Linked DNA regions of Homo sapiens. The protein of the gene in region 1 purifies or fractionates together with the protein of each later gene. This does not show direct contact. Each region holds a gene or a part of one and is shown on either strand. Other genes may lie near its edges.

Evidence for each region. Proteins that work in one complex are often made in the same cells at the same time.
Region 2: the proteins of DNAJC10 (region 1) and MTMR4 purify together in Homo sapiens (affinity purification with mass spectrometry; 4 studies listed by BioGRID and IntAct, with this or other methods). This does not show direct contact.
Region 3: the proteins of DNAJC10 (region 1) and EDEM1 purify together in Homo sapiens (affinity purification with western blotting; 2 studies listed by BioGRID, with this or other methods). This does not show direct contact.

The regions. Positions count from the first base shown.
Region 1 is NC_000002.12:182,719,257-182,726,899, forward strand, and holds part of DNAJC10 (dnaJ homolog subfamily C member 10 isoform 1 precursor), read left to right. Parts: intron 1-750; coding exon 751-913; intron 914-2,768; coding exon 2,769-2,819; intron 2,820-7,643. UniProt on the Homo sapiens protein: Endoplasmic reticulum disulfide reductase involved both in the correct folding of proteins and degradation of misfolded proteins.
Region 2 is NC_000017.11:58,511,539-58,519,539, reverse strand, and holds the start of MTMR4 (phosphatidylinositol-3,5-bisphosphate 3-phosphatase MTMR4), read left to right. Parts: upstream 1-4,901; 5' UTR 4,902-5,132; coding exon 5,133-5,177; intron 5,178-6,598; coding exon 6,599-6,688; intron 6,689-7,033; coding exon 7,034-7,150; intron 7,151-8,001. UniProt on the Homo sapiens protein: Lipid phosphatase that specifically dephosphorylates the D-3 position of phosphatidylinositol 3-phosphate and phosphatidylinositol 3,5-bisphosphate, generating phosphatidylinositol and phosphatidylinositol 5-phosphate.
Region 3 is NC_000003.12:5,197,164-5,204,806, forward strand, and holds part of EDEM1 (ER degradation-enhancing alpha-mannosidase-like protein 1), read left to right. Parts: intron 1-2,428; coding exon 2,429-2,532; intron 2,533-4,589; coding exon 4,590-4,761; intron 4,762-5,802; coding exon 5,803-5,986; intron 5,987-7,643. UniProt on the Homo sapiens protein: Extracts misfolded glycoproteins, but not glycoproteins undergoing productive folding, from the calnexin cycle.

The DNA.
Region 1 (7,643 bases):
TTTTTTTTTTTTTTTTTGAGATAGGGTCTCACTCTCTTGCCCAGACTGGAGTGCAGTGACGCCAGCGGCTTCCTGCAACTTCTGCATCACAGGCTTAAGCAATTCCCCTGCCTCACCCTCCTGAGTAGCTGGGATTACAGGCGTGCGTCACTACTGCCCAGCTAGTTTTTGTGTTTTTAGTAGAAACGGGGCTTCACCATGTTGGCCAGGCTGGTCTCGATCTCCTGACCTCAAATGATCCACCCTCCTCAGTCTCCCAAAGTACTGGGATCGATTTTGGGGTGTTTTCTGATACTGGCTTTTATGTAATTAGCTGATAGATTGGGGCACATCCTTTTTTAATTAAGTTGATTTTACCTCAAATAGAAAAATAACCTACAAATGTATTGATTTATAATTGTTATAGGAGTAAAAAATATTTATGAAATTAAGAGTTTCAACAGGCTTATTATTTTCAGCTGCATTTTTTAGGAAGAATAACTCATGGTCTGATAACGTCTGTCAACCTTTTGAAGAGTCAATTATTTCATTACTTTTCTTACTTTTTTTTTTTTTTTTTTGAAGATTATAGTTTCTTAAAAAATACTTCATTTCAACCCATGGTAACTCATGTCATGTTGTATTACCCCTCCTTATGTTGGTATATGGTCTCCCAGAAGTTACTAGATTAATTAAACCTACATATATGTTTTGAAGAAACTTGGATTGTGTATCTGAAATAATTGTATTATATCTAATATTTTTTAACAGAATAACCCAAATGCACATGGCGATTTTTTAAAAATAAATAGAGCATATGAAGTACTCAAAGATGAAGATCTACGGAAAAAGTATGACAAATATGGAGAAAAGGGACTTGAGGATAATCAAGGTGGCCAGTATGAAAGCTGGAACTATTATCGTTATGATTTTGGTAAGGTGATACGATATTACTTATGAAATGTGTTTTATCTGAGTAAAAGAAAAGTGAATTCTGTTTCACCACTTAGCTTATATATTTAAGATGCGTCACTTTGATTAGCTCCTTTTAATTTGCTGTGGGAGTGAAATTTAAAAGGAATGTCAGTTGGTATACAGAGATGATCTGTACAGATATGAAGTTGTATTGGTTAAATCTTGTTAAATACTTTTAAAATAAGGATTGCTATTTAATAAAAAATATGCATTCATGGACTGCATAATGACATTTCACTTAACAATGGATTGTATGTAGGACATTGGTCCCATGAAATTATAATACCATATTTTTACTGTACCTTTTCTATATTTAAATACAAAGATACTTAGCATTGTGTTACAGTTGCCTATGGTATTCAGCAGTAACATGCTGTACAGATTTGTAGACTAGGTGTGTAGTAAGCTATACTATCTAGGTTTGTGTAAGTACACTCTGTGATGTTTTTGCAACAACAAAATTCCCTAACAACACATTTCTCAGAATGTGTCCCATTAGTAAGTGATGTATGACTATATGTTTGCATTAGGGGTAGCTAAATATTTCTTTCAGTATTTTTTAGTATTGAATAATATTAATTTCTTTCAATATATTTTAGAGCATCATATTGTCCAAGAAAGGCGAAACTTCAAGTTTAGTAATGATCTCTTCAATAGAAATGCCGTCCTTCTCATATGGAACCCTTACTGATTTTTAAGGTGTTTTGGCCTTCGGTTGACATTAAGGTCAATACCTTGAAACATTATCAATAAAGGTTCCATATGAGAAGGACGAAAGGTGTTTTTTTTCTTAAACATGGAGGAAAAAATAAGGTGGAAGGAGGAAACAAAGTAAAGGAACTAAGGAAGAGAGATTGTAAACACACAGGTATCAAGGGAGGAAGGTGTGTTCAGAGACCCAGTGTTTCTCCTAGTCATTAATTAACCTCAAATGCAGGCTAAGAACTGAATATGCTTCTGTATTAGACTAAATGAAGTATTTTAAATTTATATCTGGAGGATTTGCTTTTAGTAAATATGATTTTTTTTCAAAATAGTATTTTCAAGTATATTCTCTACACCTTGATAGTCTATATCAAGAGTTAGCAGACTGCATTTCATAGGCCAAATCTGGCTTGCCATTTGCTTTTATAAATAAGTTTTATTGGAATGGAATTACTTTAATTTGTTTACATAATATATGTGACTTCTTTCACACTTCAAGAGCAGAGTTGAGAAGTTGTGATAGAAGCCATACATCCCACAAAGCCTAAAAAATGTATATTTACTAAATATTTGTGTCTGCCTCTGCAAATACTCTAAGCTTTTTAGCAGAAGATATTCTAACATGATACCATGTGTTAAAAACCATATAATCTGAAAATCAAATGAGGTCTGTAGTCTAGTTAACAGTGTACCACTCTCAATTTCCTGGTTTTCGATATTGTGCTATATAGCTACATAACATGTCACCATTAGAGGAAGGTGAGTAAAAAGTATACAAGAGTCTATATTTTTGCACCTTCCTGAATCTGTAATTATTTTTAAAACCATAATATAAATTTTATATGGAGGTAAAATTATGTGAATATTACGAACTACCGCATACACATCTATGAGAGTCCATATCAGAATTCTAATATCTTTAGATCACCCTAAATGTACTGATAGTATTATTTACTTTTTTTTCACTTAGGATGTTGCATATTCTCTAAGTTTGAGATATAATATAGTAGTTTGATTTTTTTGATGATTAAAACGAGTAATCTATTTTTATGTTGCAATTTATATGGTGAAGTTTTGATTTTATAATTTTTATATACTTTTAAAATTAGGTATTTATGATGATGATCCTGAAATCATAACATTGGAAAGAAGAGAATTTGGTAAGTTTGTGGGCTTAAGGTTTTATAAAACTAATACAAGTTCGATCTCATCTAAAACTCTAGGGGATATATATGTTTGAAATTTAGAAATCTTTTGGAGTTTCGAACAGTAATAATGTAATATACTGTATCTTAAATATTTCTAGCAGAATGTGGGGAAGTGTACCATAATAAAAACATTAATATTTATGTAGCAAAATGTGTAAGTATATATACTAAATAAAAGAAATTTAAAAATCAGTTCAGATCAGGTTTGGATGCCAAGTGAGCTTGCTGCAAACTTACAGCAAAACTTCTCAGAGCTTTTTGATTTTAGAGTTTTGGATAAAGGTATAGTTATTTTGGAAGTAGATTTAATTTGATTGGCAACTTTGTGTGAAAATGGCCATAAAAATACAGTTCTGCATTTTCCATTGCATTTTAGAAAATTGTATACCAGAATAGATTCTTATACTTTCATCCTTTGTACAGTAATAATAGGTTTATTTTTTCTATTTCAGAGCAATAAATTAAACTTCAAATCAAATTTCAATTTTATATTGCTCTATCACAATTGTATTTAATTTAGAAAACTAAAATACAGCCAGGCGCGGTGGCTCACACCTGTATAATCCCAGCACTTTGGGAGGCCAAGGCAGGCAGATCGCTTGAGATCAGGAGTTAGAAACCAGCCTGGCCAACATGGGGAAAACCCTCTCTACTAAAAATACAAAAATTAGGTGTGCCTGGTGGCACGCACCTGTAATCCCAGCTACTTGGGAGGCTGACGCACAAGAATCGCGTGAATCTGGGAGGCTGATATTGCAGTGAGCCATGATGGCACCACAAAAAAAAAGAAAACTAAAATAGCGTACCAGTCGCAAAAAATACATATAAATCTATATGTTTTTCATATATTATCGTTAAAAATTTATTACAGCTACTTGATTTTATACAGTTTGTTCCTTCTAAGCAAGGGTGGCTTTTTTTTTTTTTTTTTTTTGAGACGGAGTCTTGCTTTGTCACCCAGACCAGTGTGCAGTGGCACGATCTTGGCTCACTGCAACCTCTGCCCCCTGGGTTCAAGCGATTCTCCTGCCTCAGCCTTCTGAATAGCTGGGATTACAGGTGCCCGCTACCACACCCAGTTAATTTTTGTATTTGTATTTTTAGTAGAGACAGGATTTCACCATGTTGGCCAGGCTGATCTCGAACTCCTGACCTCAGGCGATCCACCCACGTTGGCCTCCCAAAGTGCCAGGATTACAGGCATGAGCCACCACATCTGGCCAAGGGTGGCATTTTAATCTTATTTTCTACATCATGCTGGTGAGCTTCACATACAAAATAGCTGTTCAATGTGTTACTTTGTTAAAAGCCTTCTAGGTGAACACTTGAACATGTTCTAAGTGAATAGAAAATACATCTTTCCTGTGTTCTGCAAATAAGACAATTTGATTCATTTGGATTGTTAATAGAATTAATGCTCATGTCACAAGCTGGTAGAATCATAACTCTCGTGTGAGTTATATAAACCTATAGCTGTTCCTGTGTGGTTTTTATTGTCTCTCATCTCCTAATATATCAGTAAGTGTTTTGTGTACCAATGGTTCAGAAAACATCGGAATTACAGATAGAGGAACTGAACAAAACTTGCAAGCTTACTAATCCATGAGTCTACCTAGAATGAGACTTCACTGATAGTTATATTGTATATGGGTTCACACTTTTTCAGATGTGTCACTATGCAGAAAAGCTTAAGAACTGTTAATAGTTCATATAGAACCCCAAATGGTAGTTCAAGATAAATTGCAGCCACAAAACTTCAGAGATAATTCATAAATAATTAACCTTGCTTGATGAGAGGAATGAGCAGGAGCATTGTTGTGATAGAGAAGGACCCTCTAGTGAAGCTTTCCCAGGCATTTTTCTGCTAAGCAGATGTTATCATTTCTGGCTCTCTAGAAAGTCAACAAGCAAATGCCTTCTAAGCTCTTCTATTATATGCAGCATAGGTTAAGTAGGTTTAATCAATTCTGACAGCTACTGTAAACTCTGAAAGAATAAAATAAGAGACCTACATAATACAGTAAGGATTGCGGGGATTAAATTTAATATAAGCCCTAAATAAGACATTACCTTGGAAAATCACTTTATTTGAAAAGATTGACTTTTTTTTAACAATTCAAAACATTAATACATACTTGCTAAAATTATAGATTTGAACATGTGATATCTAGCCAATAGTGCAGTTTATATTTTATCTGTAAAATGACCTGATGCAAATTACAAATTTTACTCACTTAAAAAATTTAACATTGTAAAAATGTGCTTTCACATTCAAGATAAAAAGGCGAGGGTAATCTGCTTTTGGTTAAAGGATTTCCATATGATTCCATGTTAAAATTAGTTAATATTTTAAAATAAAAATTTCAGAAATTACAGTAAGACATTAAAACATGCATGGTATTCTAAATACGTGCAACTAATTCAGGCTAATTAGAAACAGGTACAGGACTCAGTGTTCACCTACATTTCAAGTATAAGATAGACCTGTGGGGAAAAAGTTAATCTGTACCTTACAGGCAAAGTAATTACATTTTACTTTGCTAATAGAAGCTGTTAACTGGAGTTGTATGTATATTAACAGACAGTAGCTGTAGTTGTATAGTTTAGAAGTGGAAAGTTGCATTTTGAAATGTAATAATTCTATTCTGGGTCACTGTTAGGCACAACATCCCATTGAGCTGTGATGATACAGTATTTAAAATATTTTAACTTTATTCTTATTACTCAGCAATCAGTGGGAACTTGGCAAATATGAGAAGTGCTCGATGAAGACAAAGTACAGGTGTACCTCATTTTATTACACTTTGATTTATTGCACTTCATAGATAATGCACTTTTTTTTCCTTAACAAATTGAAGGTTTTTAGCAACCCTACATCAAGCGAGTCTATCAGCTGAACGTGTTTCCAATAGCATGTGCTCATTTCATGTCTCTTTCTCACATTTTGGTATCCAAACTTTTTCATTATTATTCTGTCTGTTACAGTGATCTACAGTCAGTGATCTTTGATGTTACTATTGTAATCATTTTGGAGTGTGCCCATAGGATGGCATACTTAATTTTTGTGTCTATTCTGACTGCTCCCTCTTCCTTCTCCCTTTTCTCTCCCACTTCTTGGGCCTCCCTACTCCCTGAGATACAACATTACTGAAATTAAGCCAATTAATAACTACAGTGACCTCTTAAGTGTTGAAGTGGAAGAGATGCACATCTCTCATTTTAAATCAGAAGCTAGAAATGATTAAGCTTAGTGAGGGAGGCATATCAAAACCCAAGACAGGCTAAAAGGTAGACCTCTTTTGCTAGTTAAATTATAAATGCAAAGGAAAAGTTCTTCATGGAAAGTAAACGTGCTACTCCAGTGAACACACTAATGATAACACAAAACAGCCATACTGCTAACATAGAGAATGTCTTAGTGGTCTGGGTAGATCAAATTATCTACAACATCCCCTTAGCGAAAGCCTAACCAGAGAAAGACCCTAATTCTTTTCAATTTTATGGAGGCTTAGAGAGATGAAGAAGCTGCAGAAAAAAGTTTGAAGCTAGAAAAGGTTGGTTCATGAGGTTTAAAGAAAACAGCCATCTCCATAACATCAAAATACAAGATGAAGCAGCAAGTCCCGACATAGAAGCTGCAGCAAGTTTTCCAGAAGATCTAGCTAAGATCATTGATGAAGGTGGCTATACTAAACAACAAATTCTCAATGTTAATGAGACAGCCTTCCATTGGAAGAAGATGCTATCTGGGACTTTTTTTTCATGCCTGCTAACACCATATCCATTCTGCAGCCCGTAAATCAAGGAGTAATTTCAACTTCAAGTCATATTATCTAAGAAATACATTTCATAAGGCTCTACCTGCCATAGGTAGTGATTCCTCTGATGGATCCAGGCAAAGTAAATTGGAAACCTTCTGGAAAGGAGTCACCATTCTAGTGTCATTAAGAACATCTGTGATTCATGGAAGGAGGTCAAAATATCAGTGTTACAGGAGTTGGGAAGAAGTTCATTCCAACCTTCATGGATGACTTTGAGGTGTTCAAGGCTTCAATGGAGGATGTAACTGTAGATGTGATAGAAATAGCAAGAGAACTGGAATTAGAAGTGGAGCCTGATTATGTGACTGAATTGCTGCAATCTCATTATAATGATCTCATTATAATATAATTATCTCATTATAATAATCTCACCATGGGGCGGTGAGGAGTTGTTCCTTATGGATGAGCAGAGAAAGTGATTTCCTGAGATGGAACCTACTCCTGGTGAAGATCCTGTAAACAATGTTGATATGACAACAAAGGATTTAGAATATTACATAAACTTGGTTGATAAAACAGCAGCAGGGTTTGAGGCCAGTTTTGACTCCAATTTTGAAAGAAGTTCTACTGTGGGTCAGATGCCATCAAACAGCATTTCACGCTTCAGAGAAAATCTTTCAGGAAAGGAGACATCAATCAGTGTGGCAAACTTCATTGTCATCTCATTTTAAGAAATTGCCACAGCCACCCCAACCTTACACAACCACCACCCTGATCAGTCAGCACCCATCAACATCACGACATGCATGACTTGCTGAAAGGCTGAAATGACTGTTAGCATTTTTTACCAATAAAGTTATTTTTTGTTCCTTGGTTGGTTTGTCACCCCACCTGGAGAGTGCAGCAGCAGGATCATAGCTCATCACAGCCTTGAACTCCTGGGCTCAAGCAATCCTGCTGCCTCAGTCTCCCGACTAGCTGAGACTGCGGGCATGTGCCACCATGTCCAGCTATT
Region 2 (8,001 bases), on another chromosome or scaffold:
GAGTGCAACGGCGCTATCTCGGCTCACTGCAAGCTCCGTAGCTGGGACTACAAGACTCCGTAGCTGGGACTACAGGCGCCCGCCACCACGCCCGACTAATTTTTTGTATTTTTAGTAGAGACGGGGTTTCACCGTGTTAGCCAGGATGACCTCGATCTCCTGACCTTGAGATCCGCCCGCCTCGGCCCCCCAAGGTGCTGGGATTACAGGCATGAGCCACCGCGCCCGGCCCAAAAGGCCCCATTTTGATGCCTGTGCGTATTCCAGCTGCGGCGGACGCAGTTTTGTATTTGATACCTGCCCTTGGGAAAACACAAGGTATTAACTGCGTGCAACCTCCTGACTTTCTGTTTCCCCTGATCTGGGAAAAGGGATAGGCAGGTTAAGCTCTACACTGTAGAAAGCCTGTGATAGAGCTTTGAACAAATGCTGCAGCCATTGTAATCACCAAACACTATAGTAAGTGCTGGGAATGAATAAAAACACAATCACCGTCCTACAGGAGTTCAGTATTTAATTAAAAAATTTACAGCATCTGCTAGATTGCAGGCTGTTCTAGACCCTGGAGTTCAAGTAGTGCAAAGTTCCTGTCTTCCTGGAACTTACCAACAGTACTGGAGTTTCAACGTTCTATAAACAAAGATGGGTGAGGACATTAGCCCCGGGCTAATTAAAGCGCTCAGGCCCGCTCCAGACCTGAGAATATCAGCTGAATCTGAATCAACTGTTCTCCATTTCTGTCGGTTGGTGGTATCGCGGGGCCACGGCGACCTCCAGCGGCCACCCTCCGTCTTGTGGTCTGTTCTGGGTCCCCGGGAAGGAAAGGGAGGGGCGATAAGCCGGGTCCTTGGGAGCGTCCTGGTCTCCCTTCGCTTTACAGACTAGGAGGCCGCAGCTAGCTGGCAGTCTCAGATCCAGGTTTCCCATCTCTGGGATGAGAGGAGAGTTCTTCACTCAGGACTGCCAGCGCAATGCAGGTCGTGAAGAACTGCAGGGTCGTTTATCGATACAAAGTGAGTGTTGGAGGAACCCATCAAGACACAGGAAGGGGGAAATCCTAGCGCCGCCAGTCGGAGATGACCAAGACTGAACCTCAGGCCCAGCCCTCCCTTCTCTCTTAGCCTGCAGGTTTTTCTCCTATTCTGGCGTTGGGACCGGATGACAGCTGCGAAACCAAAACGGGAATGGATAAACTGAGGTGCCACTGGGGACCTGTTTCAGAAGTACCTCCTGGGCGGGGCCATCACCGGAAGTGGCTTTAGGCATGTAACCTACAATGCCCGCCTCTAATTGCGCTACCAGTAGGCGACGAGCCGCCTCCACTTCCGGTCCCCAGAGCAGTGGCCAGCAGCCCCCTCTTTACTGCTCTCCTATTGGCTGCCGCAAGGACGCGCTGTGATTTCCCATTGGTCGCGTCTCCCCTCCGGCGCCGCGCCTCCTTCCTCCAGGTATAGTCTCGTCTTTAGGCATCCGATTGGCTAAAGGCTGGGAGGGCGTTTGCCCGACTCGACCAATGAGTGGGGTCGAGAGTGAGGGCGGTGGCTGCGTGATGGGGGCAGGGCGGGACTTGGCGTGGCCATTGGCCAGGGCGGGTACAGGCTAGAGATATGATTGGTTCAGGAGAGGGGCACTGTGGTGGGGTCGGGACTGCGCGGCCTCAGCAGCTGCGGGAGACGGAAGTGGCAAGAGCGCGGCCTCAGAGGGTCGGGCGGACGCCGCCTGGGTGAGTCACCGTGCCCCCTGCACTGCAAGCCTGGGAACCGCAACGACCGCGTCTTGCCCGGCTCCGCCCTGGCCCCCACCGGCTTTCCTGAGTCCCGCCTTCTGTCATTTGGGGCTCCGCCTCCCAGTCTTTAGGCTCCGCCCCTAGAACCTGGGCACCTGGGCTCCCCTGCCAACCTGGCCCGCCCCCTGGGACCAGATCCCCTAGGTCTGAAAACCCTGGGCCTCCCAGGCCTGATCCTTGTCCCTCCTTCCCTCCCTTCCTTCCCTGGGGCTGCTGCCAGTGGGCGGTGAGGCAGCACCTCTGGCTTGCCTCTTGCCGGTTCCCCCATGAGGGAGAATGGCCTAGGGAAGAGGATACTGTGAACAGGGAGGTGGGCAGTACCACAGATGGAGGCTTTTATCCCCGCAGCCTCCCGCAGGGCTCTGCTGCACTGCCTGAGGAAAGCAGGCATGAAGGAAAGTGTCAGTGAAACCTAGGCCTGGCTCCCTAAGTGAGCCTAGGAGGCCCTATCCTGAAATCCCTGTTACTTGGGCTCATTGGACAGATGCTGACTCCAAGGCCTGGATTGGCCTGATTCTGTCCCTGTTGTGTGGCCTCCTCTCCATAACCTCCACCCCACTTGGTGTCAAATACACTCAGGAGGACCTGTGCAGCCCTGCTGCCCTCTGATCACAGGTTGTGGTCCCCTCCCTCTTGTCCCACTCTGGACTCTGCCCCCAGTAAACAGGTCAGGTGGGTACTACTCCCAGACTCAGAGACTGGCAAAACATTCCTGTGGATTCATGCTCCTTCAACTACTGCCACTTCACCCCAAGAGTCAGGGCCTAAAATGAGCCCCAGTTGGGCAGCCTGTGTCTCTTCATAGTTGGCAGTTCTGCTCCCTGAGAAAGAAGTGTTCTCCCTCTGCGTCTGGAAATCAGGACTCCTGAATTCTGCTGAATAATCTTGGATGACACTCATTCCTGTTTCAGAACTTCGTGGCTGACTTCATGCCCTGCAGGATCACTTGTTGCTTTCTCCTCATGTAGCTCCCATTGCCTCTCTCTGGCATGGTGACTTGTGGAGAGACTGGAGTCTCTGTGAGGGAGAAGAATAAGAGTTGTAGAGAAGGTCAGGGGTAGATGTGTGTCATTTGTTGATTCTATGGTAATGTTAATGGGGTCCTTTACTTTTATGTTCCTCTGTCTCCTTACAGTGAGAAGCAGGCAGCCAGTACCCTTGCCACGGTAGAATGGTGAGTACCCTGTCTTTCCTCAGGCCATTGTGTTTTCTGTAATCCATGTGTCTTTCTCTGTGAAGCTGCCCCACCTGTCCTAGACCTTGAGCTCCAGGCTACCCTGTTCAGCTCCTAAACATGTTCATCTGCCCTGGAGATAAATTAGGGTTTCTTTAGATTGCAAAACATCAGCCAGTATACAGCACTGGGACTGGAAGCTTCTAGAAATCATTTTCTGCATGTGCTAGGCCCCACACTTTCCTCCTACTCCCTACCCACCACTGGTTCTATTAACCCTTCATAACAGCCCTCTTCTTGCTTTTCTTGGGTCCCCGGTAGAATCTCTGTGTTCTGGTCTGAAAAGCTGGGCCTTCTTTATCTCAAGATCTTTGGACTTCTGGTGGGTCCTTTGAATATTGTGGATGCTATATCAGGAGTGACTCCACCAAAACTGTGGGGCTTCTCTAGTTCCAGGGTGCTGCTGTTAAGCCACTACAGGTGACAGCTGATTGAATATCTATCAGGATAGCATCTTCAGGGTGCCCAGAATATCACCAGAGGTGGTTTACAATGATCCTATTAATTTTCCATTAACTGTAACAGCCCTTCTCTCACCCCAAGTCCAGGGAAGCCCTTAACTCCTAAGAGCTAGGAGGAGGCAGTGAGATGGGAAAGGCCTAGAGAGCTGTAGGCCCTGGCCCAGACCAGGCCCTTAACCTGGTAGTATCTCTTCGGTGTCTTTTAGGTGTCCCTTGTGCTTAGGGGCAGGTTAAAGAATTCAGTAGATGAGAGGATTTCCTCCTTCCCTCCCTTCCTTCCATAGACATGTGGATTTGGTGTGTGCACTATTGGTTCAGTCTCTTCTCAGAAAGCCTGCTGGTTTTGGCCCCCACCAACAGATAGCTCCTCTTTTTCTCTTCTGGGCTACCCTGAAAAGAGCATGGGCTTCACAGTCAGCTTCATCTAATTTCAAATCCTAGCACCACCACTTAGTTAAATTACATACTTTCTCTCTAAGCTTGAGTCTCACGAGTAAGACAGGATAAGGTTTACTTCTTGGGGCTTGAAAAGTTTTACTGAGATAATGTTAGAAACTGCCTGGCTCATTGTAGATGCTTAATAAAATGTCAGGTTTTCTTTTATTACTCCCTTCTCCCCCAAACAAGACAAAAGCCCTGGTGTCTGAAAGTTACAAGGTGCAGGAAGTTTGGGGTTCCAGCCACCTCCCTCTGTGACTCTTGGTGACATTTTGAGCCCCTTATTCCTGGTCCTTATTCCTTGGCCCTCTACCCAACTCTCTCTACTCCGCTGCTCCTGGGTTTCAAGTTTCGTTTTTTTGTATAGCTTCTGTGGTCGATACTTCTAGCTCTTCACTTTCCCAGACTAAGAAATCCTTTCTCCTCCAAGAAGGGCTTTCTTACCCAGAGATCAGAATGTGAAACAAGGGAGAGATGGAGCTGAAGGAGTAGGGTTGGGTAGGGGCGTTGGAATAAAAAGCTCATTTCCCTTTCCAGGAGCGTGGAATGACTAACCTGGCACCATTCTAAGGGGAAAGAAAGGTTTAACGAAGTCACGGGATTGAAGGACCCTGATGGGCAGGGGCATGGTGGGTAGTGGTTTTGGAGGGAAAGGAGGAAGCAAATGGGGTGCGGGTAGGTGAGCTCCACCTTGGGATCCAGAGCAGGCGTCGGGGGAACTTAGGGGAGGGGGCGCGGGGATGGGTTTGTAAGAGGGCATGGGGTGGCTCACCTTAGAAGAAGGGAAATGAGAAGATGTGGGCGGTCCCGTAGCCCAGATTCCTGAAAGCTCCTAAAGGTCCCTGGAGTAGGGTACGCCCTCCTACGAGGCCCAGGGTCCGCGGGGAGGGAGGAGGCTGGGCTTGTGGGCGGGGCCCGCGGAGCCGCCCCGCCTCTACCTCCGCCTTCCCGCCGCGGTCCCGGGCTCTCCCCTCGCCTGGCTCCCCTCCCTTCTGCACTCGTGCGGGAGGGCGGAGCTGGGCCCGCTCCATTGTGGAGAGGAGGGGAGAGGCGCGCGGGAGCCGCGCGGAGGCCCGGCCACCAGCGCCCTAGCCTCTTGGCCGCCGCGGCTGCACCTGGCGAGCCCCGCAGCCGGGATGCGGCGGGCGCCCGGGGCTGGCGGGCAGCGCAGCGGCTCCGGGGACATGTGCGCTGGCCCAGACCGCCCGCGACCATGAGCCTGACCGCCCGCGTCTCCTGCTCCATGCTTAGCTGCTTCGTAAGTGCCCACCCTGCCTTTGGGGGCCTAGGAGGCACCCGCAGCCCCGCCCAGGGTCAGCCCTCGATTTCAGCCCATCCCCCTTCCCGAGGCCCCTGGCCCGGCCCCGAACGTTTGGGGGGCAGGGAAGGTGGGTTAACCCTTTTATTTCTTGGACTTGCTTCAATCTTTGGGTGCCGGAGATGGTCGAAGGCCAGGAATGGAAATTCTGTGGTCCATCCTGGCCCCGCAGCCACTGCCCTTGACTGCAGATCTCTAGGCCCCGCCCTGCAGGGGTACATCCCTTTACCTCCGCCTCTCCCTCTTGGTCCCACCCGCTGAATCCTTGCTTGGGGATGTGGGATGTGGCTAGTAGGCTGAATGGGATGTTAGGAGGTTGGTCGGGGAGCACGGGATGTCTTTGAGCTGGCTTGGGGCTCCAGTCCCTTCCCTCTTCCACCATTCCATCCCTCACCTGGCATGCCAGCCTTTTCTCCTTGACTGTCCCCCAGACAGCCTCTCTTCTCCATCTTCCCTGCCTCTGCAGGGTTCCGTACCTCTGCATCATTCCCGGTCCTCCCCTCCTCCCGCTCTGGCTGATGCTCCTTCCCAGCTTCCCCCATCTGTCCTCTCAGCTGTCCCCCCACCTTCCCCGTGGGTGTCTGCCGGGCCTCCTCTCTCTCTCTCCCCTGGCTGTCCTTGGGTCTCCTGGCTCCTCCCAGGCGCGTGGATCCCCCCGGGTCCCCTCCCTGGTGGTTGGGAGGGGAGTTCCTTTTGCTTGCTGTGGGTATTCCTCAGGAATTCCCCTCTGATTAGCAGGCAGAGCAGGTTACTTGGCAGGTAATGGGGGCTTGTCAGCAATGTGGGTCTAACAAGAAGATAAGCCCAGCTCTCAAACACGTCTTCCTTTTGAAAGCGTCGGTGAAGGCCCTCTAGAGGCGTGGGACTGAATCCCCCCACCCACTCCTCTTTGTCTCCTTCACCCACCAGATTGAAGCTTCAGTGGCTTGTAGGCGCCTGATTTCCCTTCTCTCTGAAACCAGCTGCCATACCTGGCTCCTTTTCCTCAGGACAGCACTTTCCCATCCCCACTCCTGCCTTACCCTTATGCGGGTCTAAGGGAAAGAGTCTTTCTTTTCCTTAGTTTTCTCTCCTCCATTTTTGAAATGTTGGTTCTATAGGAGAGTCCCTCTTTGAAGAGTGCAGATTCCCAATTCCTCCTGGGGCCTCACTCTTTCCTTAGGCTTAATAGGCTGATATGCTCTCCATTTCACCCTTCCCTGTCTCCAACCAAGTCAGATCTCTTTTCCCTTCTCTGGTGACCAGAACCTTTAGAGGTGTGTGTGTGTGGGTATCTGTGGATTTCTTGGTGGGGAGAGGAGCAGAATGAGCCTGATGGGCTAAGTGGAGCTTGGTGACTTAGGACTGTGGCCTTCCTACAGGGTGAGGAGGGGCCCCCCAGCCTGGAGTACATCCAAGCCAAGGATCTGTTCCCCCCCAAGGAACTAGTGAAGGAGGAAGAGAATCTTCAGGTAAGGAGGAGTTGGGGGCCAGGATAGATGGGGCTCCCTGCCCAGTTAAAAAACACCCTCCCTTCTCCCAAAAATCCTCAAGGGCATCTGGTACCAGAGCTCTGGCTTCATGTTCCCTGGTCTCTGGAGGAGGAGGGTTTGTCTGCGCATCCTGGAGCCTTTGGCCGCAGGGAAGGAAAGGCAGCTTTCCTGTACAGCTGTTGCCTGGTGCTGTTACCGTGGAGAGAACTCTCCTCTCTTGCCTTGGCCCACCTTTTCCAGAGGGGATCCCACAGATCAGGGGCTGTAGAAGAGGATAAGGTGGTCACTCACTTCTGGACTGAAGGTTTCTCTGCCCCTTGACAGGTCCCCTTCACAGTGCTGCAGGGTGAGGGAGTAGAGTTCCTGGGCCGGGCAGCCGATGCCCTCATTGCCATCTCTAACTACCGGCTGCATATCAAATTCAAGGACTCTGTCATCAACGTGAGTTTCTGTATTGTTCTCCTACCCCTAAGCTAGAATCCCTATGAAGTTCAAGGTGGGATTGTTCCAAGGCTGTCCTTGATCATGTCATTAAAAAAGTTGGAGGCCGGGCGCAGTGGCTCACGCCTGTAATCCCAGCACTTTGGGAGGCCGAGGCGGGTGGATCACTTGAGGTCAGGAGTTCGAGACCAGCCTGGCCAACATGGTGAAACTGTGTCTCTACTAACAATACAAAAATTAGTCGGGCTTGGTGGTGCGCACCTGTAATCCCACCTACTCGGGGGCTGAGGTACGGGAATCACTTGAACCTGGGAGGTGGAGGTTGCAGTGAGCCGAGATTGTGCCACTGCTGTCCAGCTTGGGTGACAGGGTGAGACTACCTCTCAAAAAAATAAAAAAAAAAAAGTTGGGGATCCCTTCTGTTTCTCTCTGACCTCATGTTTTCCTGCCTCATTTTCCTAGCTCTGTTTCTGGCTCATTCTCCTTTCTCCTCTTCTCTCTTTCCATTATTCTATTACTGGCCCTTCTAAGGAGCACAGTGGCATTGTTGGAAGAACACAGGCTTTGGAGTCAGGCAAACCTGGGCTCTTTTCCTGCGTTGCCACTCACCAGCTGGGTGACCTTGGTCAAGTCACCTAACTGAGGCTTGATTTTTCTCCTCGTAATATGGGCTGAAAGCACCTGCTGTGCAACGTTATTGGGATCATTAATTGGGATCACATATGCAGAGGACTCCGTACAGTTACCAGGTGCTTAACAGACCCTCAGTAAATGTTGGTTTCCTTCCTGCTATTGATACATTAGTGCCTACGCTAGGGTGAGGGTGAGGAGTGGTACCCAGTGGGGAGTCT
Region 3 (7,643 bases), on another chromosome or scaffold:
GTGCACAGTAGCAGTGCAAATGTTTGTTCAAAAAATGAATTCTGACTAATGAAGCATTTCCCAACACAGATTCCAAAGATACTTACTCCCTGAAAGAAGAGTTCTGTTTCTAAATGAACTTGAGAAATTCCGTATGTCTGGTCCCACTATTAGAGAGCCACAGTGCCCATCAGCATTTTAAAGACTCTGAGAAGTCCTACAGTCAAACAAACAAACCCATTTAGCTCCTCTGTCCCATTCAGCCATTTTCAAACATTAGTGTGATTTCAGAACATAGTCACTCAGGATTCTATAGCTATCTGACCATAATGATAAACTACAATAAGTAAGAGCTGTTGACTTCCTTCACCTTCCTCACTTGATTTGAGCTCCTGTCAGCACCTGCAGCTTCACCAGATATTGTTGCTGGTAAACATCTGTAAGGAAACAGACTCATCTCTGTGGTTTTCATTGTAGAATATCCGGCCTTTAGTGCTTCAGGCTTATTTTTCAGGTGTTACTTCTGTTGAAGTTTTCCTTTTCTTTTGCTAACATTTAAACAGGCTTTAACAGATGTGCTAGGGAAACACTGTGAAGATAGCAGTCCCCTGACCATTGGATGCAACTTGCAGCATTATTGCATCATCTTCTAAAAAGAAAGAACTGAAAGCTAGAAATGTCTGTACTTACTCTGTAGGTTACAGCAAAATAACGATGAGGTGGAAAAAATGTAGTTAGGCACAGCTTGGTTTTATACATTGTAGGGAGACATGAGACATCAATCAGTATGTGTAAGATGTACATTGGTTCAGTCCAGAAAAGTGAGACAACTTGAAGTGCTGGGGGTGGGGTGAGGGGGCACTTCCAAGTCACAGGCAGATAAAAGACAAATGGTTACATTTTTTTTGTCTTTTTTTTTTGAGACAGAGTCTTGCTGTGTTGCCCAGGCTGGAGTGCAGTGGTGAGATCTCGGCTCACTGCACCCTCCACCTTCCCAGGGGTTCAAGCAGTTCTTGTGCCTCAGCCTCCCGAGTAGCTGGGATTACAGGCATGCGCCACCACGCCTGGCTAATTTTTTGTATTTTTAGTAGAGACAAGGTTTTGCCATGTTGGCCAGGCTGGTTTTGAACTCTTGGCCTGAAGTGATCCGCTCGCTTTGGCCTCCCTAAGTATGGGCTTACAGACCTGAGCCACCGTGTCCAGCCGGTTGACTCTCTGATTAGCCTTTCACGGAATATACAGTTTACCTGTGACAAAGGTAGAGGAATAGTCACTTATGCCTTTGTCTGGCTTAGTGAATCTGCAGTTTTACATAAACAGTAGGGCAGAGGAAGCAATCAGATATGCATTTTTCTTAGGTGAGCAGAGGGATGACTGAGTTCTGTCCTTTGTTTGTACCTGTGAAGATAAACTGTCAATTTACATTGCCTGGGTGAAATTCAGCAGAATTGTTTTGAGGGGAAGATCTTGAGGCCCACAAGGAATTTCCTTGTAGGTAAATTGTAAGGGACGTATATAGCTTTTTTTTTTTTTTTTTTTTTTGAATCTTTGTAGCTATCTTATTTAGGAATAAAATGGGAGGCAGGTTTGCCTGATGCAGTTCCTAGCTTGACTTTTCCCTTTGGCTTAGTGATTTTGGGGTCCCAGAAATTTATTTTTCTATCACAGTATGTCCTTATGATGTCATTATAGTCTCAGGGTTGTCATAAAATTTAGAGTGGAATGAAATAATTTTGATTCAGGTTAATCTATAAAGTTTGATGCCCAACTGTGCTTCACATAGGAGAGAGTGGCTTAGTGTGACGTCGTATCTACATACCCAAAATAGGAATCATAATTCTAGATCACTTTTTAAAAAGGACATAGAGCTGATTATTCATATGTTTTGTTTCTTTTAAATCAGTCACTGGTTTTATCCTGTGCTCCAAAAGATATTACCACTATTTCTCAAAGTGTTTAGGCATCTGGATAACAATCAACAAGTTCATTCAGTTTTCCACATGTTTTGGTCTCCTGGGAGCCAAGCACCCAAGCTGCTGATTTATTTGAGGAGCAGAGAGAAAGACATATTTTTGTTTCTTCAGTTTTCTGATTTATTTGTATACCTGCCAGAAGTTTTAGAAACCACAATGCCTGGCATGTTAAATAAGATCATAGTGAAGTTTGCTGGAGAGTGGAGTTGGGAAGATGAGGAGTGCCAATGATTTTACAAGGAATTATTTTCACAGTTTTGTCCTTTGGAGACAGGACTCTTGAGTTGGAGGAAATGGGCCAGCCATGTGCTGGGAATATATGCTAAGAAATAACTGCTTTTCTGTCTCTTGTGTTTCTACTCCTATGGTAGCAAAACCACATACAGACATTTAGGTGACGTGACTGGGCTGCTGTGATGATACAGCCTCAGTTTCATTTCAAGTTGCTGTAATGACCTGTGTTCCTCTTTTTAAAGATAATGGGAAATTCATCCGAGTTCCAGAAAGCCGTCAAGTTAGTGATCAACACAGTTTCATTTGACAAAGATTCCACCGTCCAAGTCTTTGAGGCCACGATAAGGTAAAATAATGAATATTCATAAAATGAATTGGAGACTTCTTTTTATGTGTTTAAAGAAAAAAATACCTTTGAGGGTCTTTTTGCCACATGATCCAGGCAGGGAGTCCATATGGGCTTTATGGGTGCAGTGTGCATTTTTCATGTTCATATCTGTCAAAACTGGAACAATTATTTCAAAGTAATCACATTCCGGACTGAAGGGAAAGACACGTTTGTATTTTGTTTTGTTTTTATAGATTAAACTCTTTTTTTTTTTTTTTTTGAAATGGAGTCTCTGCCACCTAGGCTGGAGGGCAGTGGTGCAATCTTGGCTCACTGCAATCTCCACCTCCCAGGTTCAAGGCATTCTCATATCTCAGCCTCCAGAGTAGCTGGGATTACAGGCACTCACCACCACACCTAAGTTTTGTATTTTCAGTAGAGATGAGATTTCACCATGTTGGCCAGGCTGGTCTCGAACTCCTGACCTCAAGTGATCCGCCTGCCTTGGCCTCCCAAAGTGCTGGGATAACAGGCATGAGCCACCATGCCTGGGTACATTTATGTTTTAACGGGGGTGTAAAATAGGTGTCTGTCTAGTACAGAATTTCATGGTTTCCCTTTATAGTCTGATTTCATTTTCTTCTTTCACCGTGTCCTAGGACAACCCCTACATATTTCTGAAGGAAATGAGAGTTTCCCATCTTACCACCCACAGAAAATCACTGCTTACCATTTTAGTATATTTCTTTGTTAGGTATATCTCTCACTTCTATTTCTCTCTCTGTCTCTCTCTTTTTCTCTATTTGTTTAGTGGATTGGGATCATGCTGTATACCTAGTATATTGTATATTGCTTTTTTTGATACATTGTGGTTATTTTCCTGTTTACATCTTTTGAAAATTGTATCAACTGCATAACATTCCAGTTCACAGATGTAATACTTATTTAAAATTAAATTGGTGAAAACCTTTGTTCTGACATATATCACAGCCTACTTCAGATCTTTAGAATGGGACTTTATGGGTCTACAAGGACTTAGGTATAAGCTGGTAGCCTGCTGCCTCTTAGTAGGTCATTTTTTCCTCCTCCTCTTCACCTTGCCTCTTTACCAGATGTTACGGTGTTAGGGAAGTTGCTTGGCAGCCAAAACAACAAAAATTACTTAGTATTTGTTGTCTTACCTTTCTCTGTTTTTTTTTTTTTAATTTGAATTAAATTAAATTTTTTTTTTCATTTTAGAGCAGGGTCTTGCTCTGTTGCCCAGGCTGAAGTGCAGTGGTGCTATCACGGCTCACTGCAGCCTTGAACTCCTGGGCTCAAGCGATCCTCCCACCTCAGCCTCCCAAATAGCTGGGACTACAGGCAAATGTCACCATGCCCAGCTTCTGTTTTTTTATGAGTGTTTTCCCCAAGTGAAATAAATCAGGAGTAATTTAATAATACTAATAGGTAATATTTATTCTGAGAACAGTTAGTACACTCTTATTTTTTTTTTTAAGAGACAGGGTCCTGCTCTGTTACACAGGCTAAAGTGTAGTGGCATGATTGTAGCAGTCTTCAATTTCTAGGTTCAAGAGATCGTCCTGCCTCAGCCTCCCAAGTAGCTACTAGGACTACTGGTGTGTGCCACTACATGCGGCTAATTTTTTTTATTTTTAATAGAGACAGGGTCTTGCCTTGTTGCCCAGGCTAGTCTTGAACTCCTGGCCTCAAGAGATGCATCTCTCTTGGCAAAGTGCTGGGACTACAGGCGTGAGCCACCGCACCCAGCCAACTCCCTTTTCTTAATGCCCTAAGATTTAGATTACCAAAATTGTTACTATTTTAAATAGCATTGTTTTTGGTAGTCTCGAATAAATGATTCCCTTTCTCTCTTTTAGTAATATGGTTAACAAAAATCAATCGTGTATTCTTAGAGCTAGAAAGGAATTCAAGAGTCCATTAAGTCAGGTCTCTCTGACGTCAGGCAGTTCTGAGTCTATGTGGATATGAACATACTTCTATCTTTCTGAATTGGATTATGTGCATTTACAAGCAACACGATTGTATTATCTTTTTGTTCTTCCTGTCATTAGGGTCCTGGGAAGCCTCCTTTCTGCTCACAGAATAATAACTGACTCCAAGCAGCCCTTTGGTGACATGACAATTAAGGACTATGATAATGAGTTGTTATACATGGCCCATGACCTGGCGGTGCGGCTCCTCCCTGCTTTTGAAAACACCAAGACAGGGATTCCATATCCTCGGGTGGGTAGACTGGTTTGACCCTTTGTGTTTGACAATTCACTATCTTCCTGAATTAAAATTCTTTGCTTACTAATTTATTTGGGAGAAGGAATGGGATGGAGGTAGATGAGAAAAGCAGTGTCCTTAGAAGAATTTGGCCTTAAATATGATGTAAATATTTTAAAATTCATTCAGCATTTACTGAACATCCACTGTATGAAAGGCAAACAGTGATATATCTGACTTATTCCTTCCCCTTAAAGAGTAGATGTTCTGTGAAGTTCAGTATTCTTAAGTCCATTTACATGTGTGATTTATATTCTCTGCTACAAAGCAGTGTGGGGAGTTTGTCTTCATCTCTGACTTGGGTCTGTTTTCCCAGAGATCCTCACATGGGTATTGCGGGAGCTCAGTGAGTGTTCTTTTCAATGCTTCACGTGGATCTTTCAAATAAAGGCTGCACAGACCAGCAAGTTAGCTGCTGATTTAAATGCCAGGATCTGGAATTAGATTATATATTTGTGACATCTGATTTGCCAAGCCCAGAACTCCTCTGGGAATTGAGTCAGCCTTTTAGGTAACTGACTGAGAACTGCCAGAGCACAGAGCCTTCATGATGAAACTGGCTGTCATATTCTGGTAGTGCCTCCTTTCTTGCCCAGTTTGAGGTTTGTTTAGGTGCTGAGCAGGAGTGAGTTCATAGTGGTTCATTTAAAATTTAGAAGAAATTCTATAGTTTGCCTTTGTCTCTAACCCTAAAGCCTGGTGCCTGTGTTACCATGAAGAAAACCTGCTGGAAAGAGAAGGTTTAGTGAAGTGTTATAGCCATTCCCTGAAGACTTGCTCTTATTAATAAAGCAAGGCTCTGCTGTTCTTATTGTCTTGTTTGTGTCTTTTAAATTTAATTCCCGTATTCACCTCAGATGTATCTTGGAAGGCAGAGGGCAGACTCTCACCGTGGTAAGCTTGGTTTATTAGCTGAGTGTAGTCTCTGAGACCCGGCTTTTCAGCTCTGTGGATTCCTTGAGTTTTGTCACAGTCTTTGTCTGTTCCCATCCCCAGGTGAATCTAAAGACAGGAGTTCCTCCTGACACCAATAATGAGACATGCACAGCGGGAGCCGGTTCCCTCCTGGTGGAATTTGGGATTCTGAGTCGACTCCTGGGGGACTCCACATTTGAGTGGGTGGCCAGACGAGCAGTGAAAGCCCTTTGGAACCTCCGGAGCAATGATACAGGATTACTAGGTGTGGCACCTTTCCTCGCCATTGGGACTGCACACTGCTTGGTCCCCTTTTCCTTTCATCTTCTCTGGGCTCTGCCCCCTTTTTACTCTTCAACTCAATTGACAACTCAGCAAGAATTGTGTCAGCTCTATCTAATTTCTTTATGTGACCCTTTGCAGAGAGGCTGCATGGTCTGATGGAAAAGCATTAAGCTTTTGTGTTTGAGGGCTCCCTTCTGATTCGGATCCCCTGGCATATTCCACTTGAAAATTATTGTTAATGGAAATGCCGTAAAAAGAACTGCCTCTGAGGCAGATTTTATTGCTTCAATGTAAGGTTCTAAATATAGGAATTTAGAGTTACTGATGGAGCAGCTTTTTCCTTTTAAAAAATCTGGGCCTGTGGTAGTAGATTGAAAGTCCAGATTAAACCTGTGTGAGGTGGGGTTTTTTCCCTTTAGAATGTTTGGTGAAGATGTTACTTAAAAATTATTATGGAAAATTTCATAATATAGTAGAGAGAAAGTATGATGAATAATGACCCCTATGTACTCATCATTTGTCTTCACTAATTATCAGTATTTTGCTAACTCAAGGTGTTATTTTATTTATTTATTTATTTTGAGTTAGGGTCTCACTGTGTCACCTAGGCTGGAGTTCAGTGGTGTGATCTTGGCTCACTGCGGCCTCCACTTGCCGGGTTCAGTGATCCTCCCACCTCAGCCTCCCAAGTAGCTGAGACGACCGGCTTGTGCCACCATGTCCAGCTAATTTTGTTTATTTTATGTAGAGACAGGGTCTCACTATGTTGCCTGACTAGTCTCAAACTCCTGAGCGCAAGCAATTCTCCCACCTTGGCCTCACAAAGTACTGGAATTACAGGTGTAAGCCACTGTGCCCAGCCTAGGTGTTATTTTAACTCATGTAACTGTCTTAAGTTCTGAAATTTATGTATACATTTGTTGTATTTAACAACAGCAATAGAAATAAAGAAGTCACTCAAATTGTCAGCCTATCACCAAATAGTTGACCAGTGTCACTCCCGATTGTCAACTTTTTAGGTTTCCATAGACCCTTTCAGCCTGGCCTGTGTAACTTCTATATATTTTTCATTATAATATAAACATATATTTTGATTCTGCCTGACATTTGGCAGATCATTTGTTTCCAGGTTGTTGCCTTGCATTCATAATGACCACTTTTGTTGTTGTTTTTATTATTAAAAAAAATTATCTTTTCCCTTTTCTTTTTTTTTTTGTCTTTTGAGACAGGGTCTCCCTCCATCACCCAGGCTGGACGGCAGTGGCACAGTCTCTGCTCACTGCAACCTCTTCCTCCCAGGCTCAAGTGATCCCTGGGATCAAGTGAACCCCCCATCTCAGCCTCCTGAGTAGCTGGCACTACAGGCACCTGCCATCGCACCCAGCAAATTTTTTGTATTTTTGGTAGAGACAGAGTTTCACCATGTTGCCCAGGCTGGTCTCGAACTCCTGAGCTCAAGCGATCCACCTGCCTCGGCTTCCCAAAGTGCTGGGATTGTAAGTGTGAGCCATCATGCCTGGCCACTTTTTCTTTTTAAAATCATCTTTTTTTGGATAAATTCCCAGGAATGGCAGTACTGGGTTAAAGTCTGTGAAAAACTCTTGGGTTTTGAAATGCATCGTCAATCTGGAAAAGCA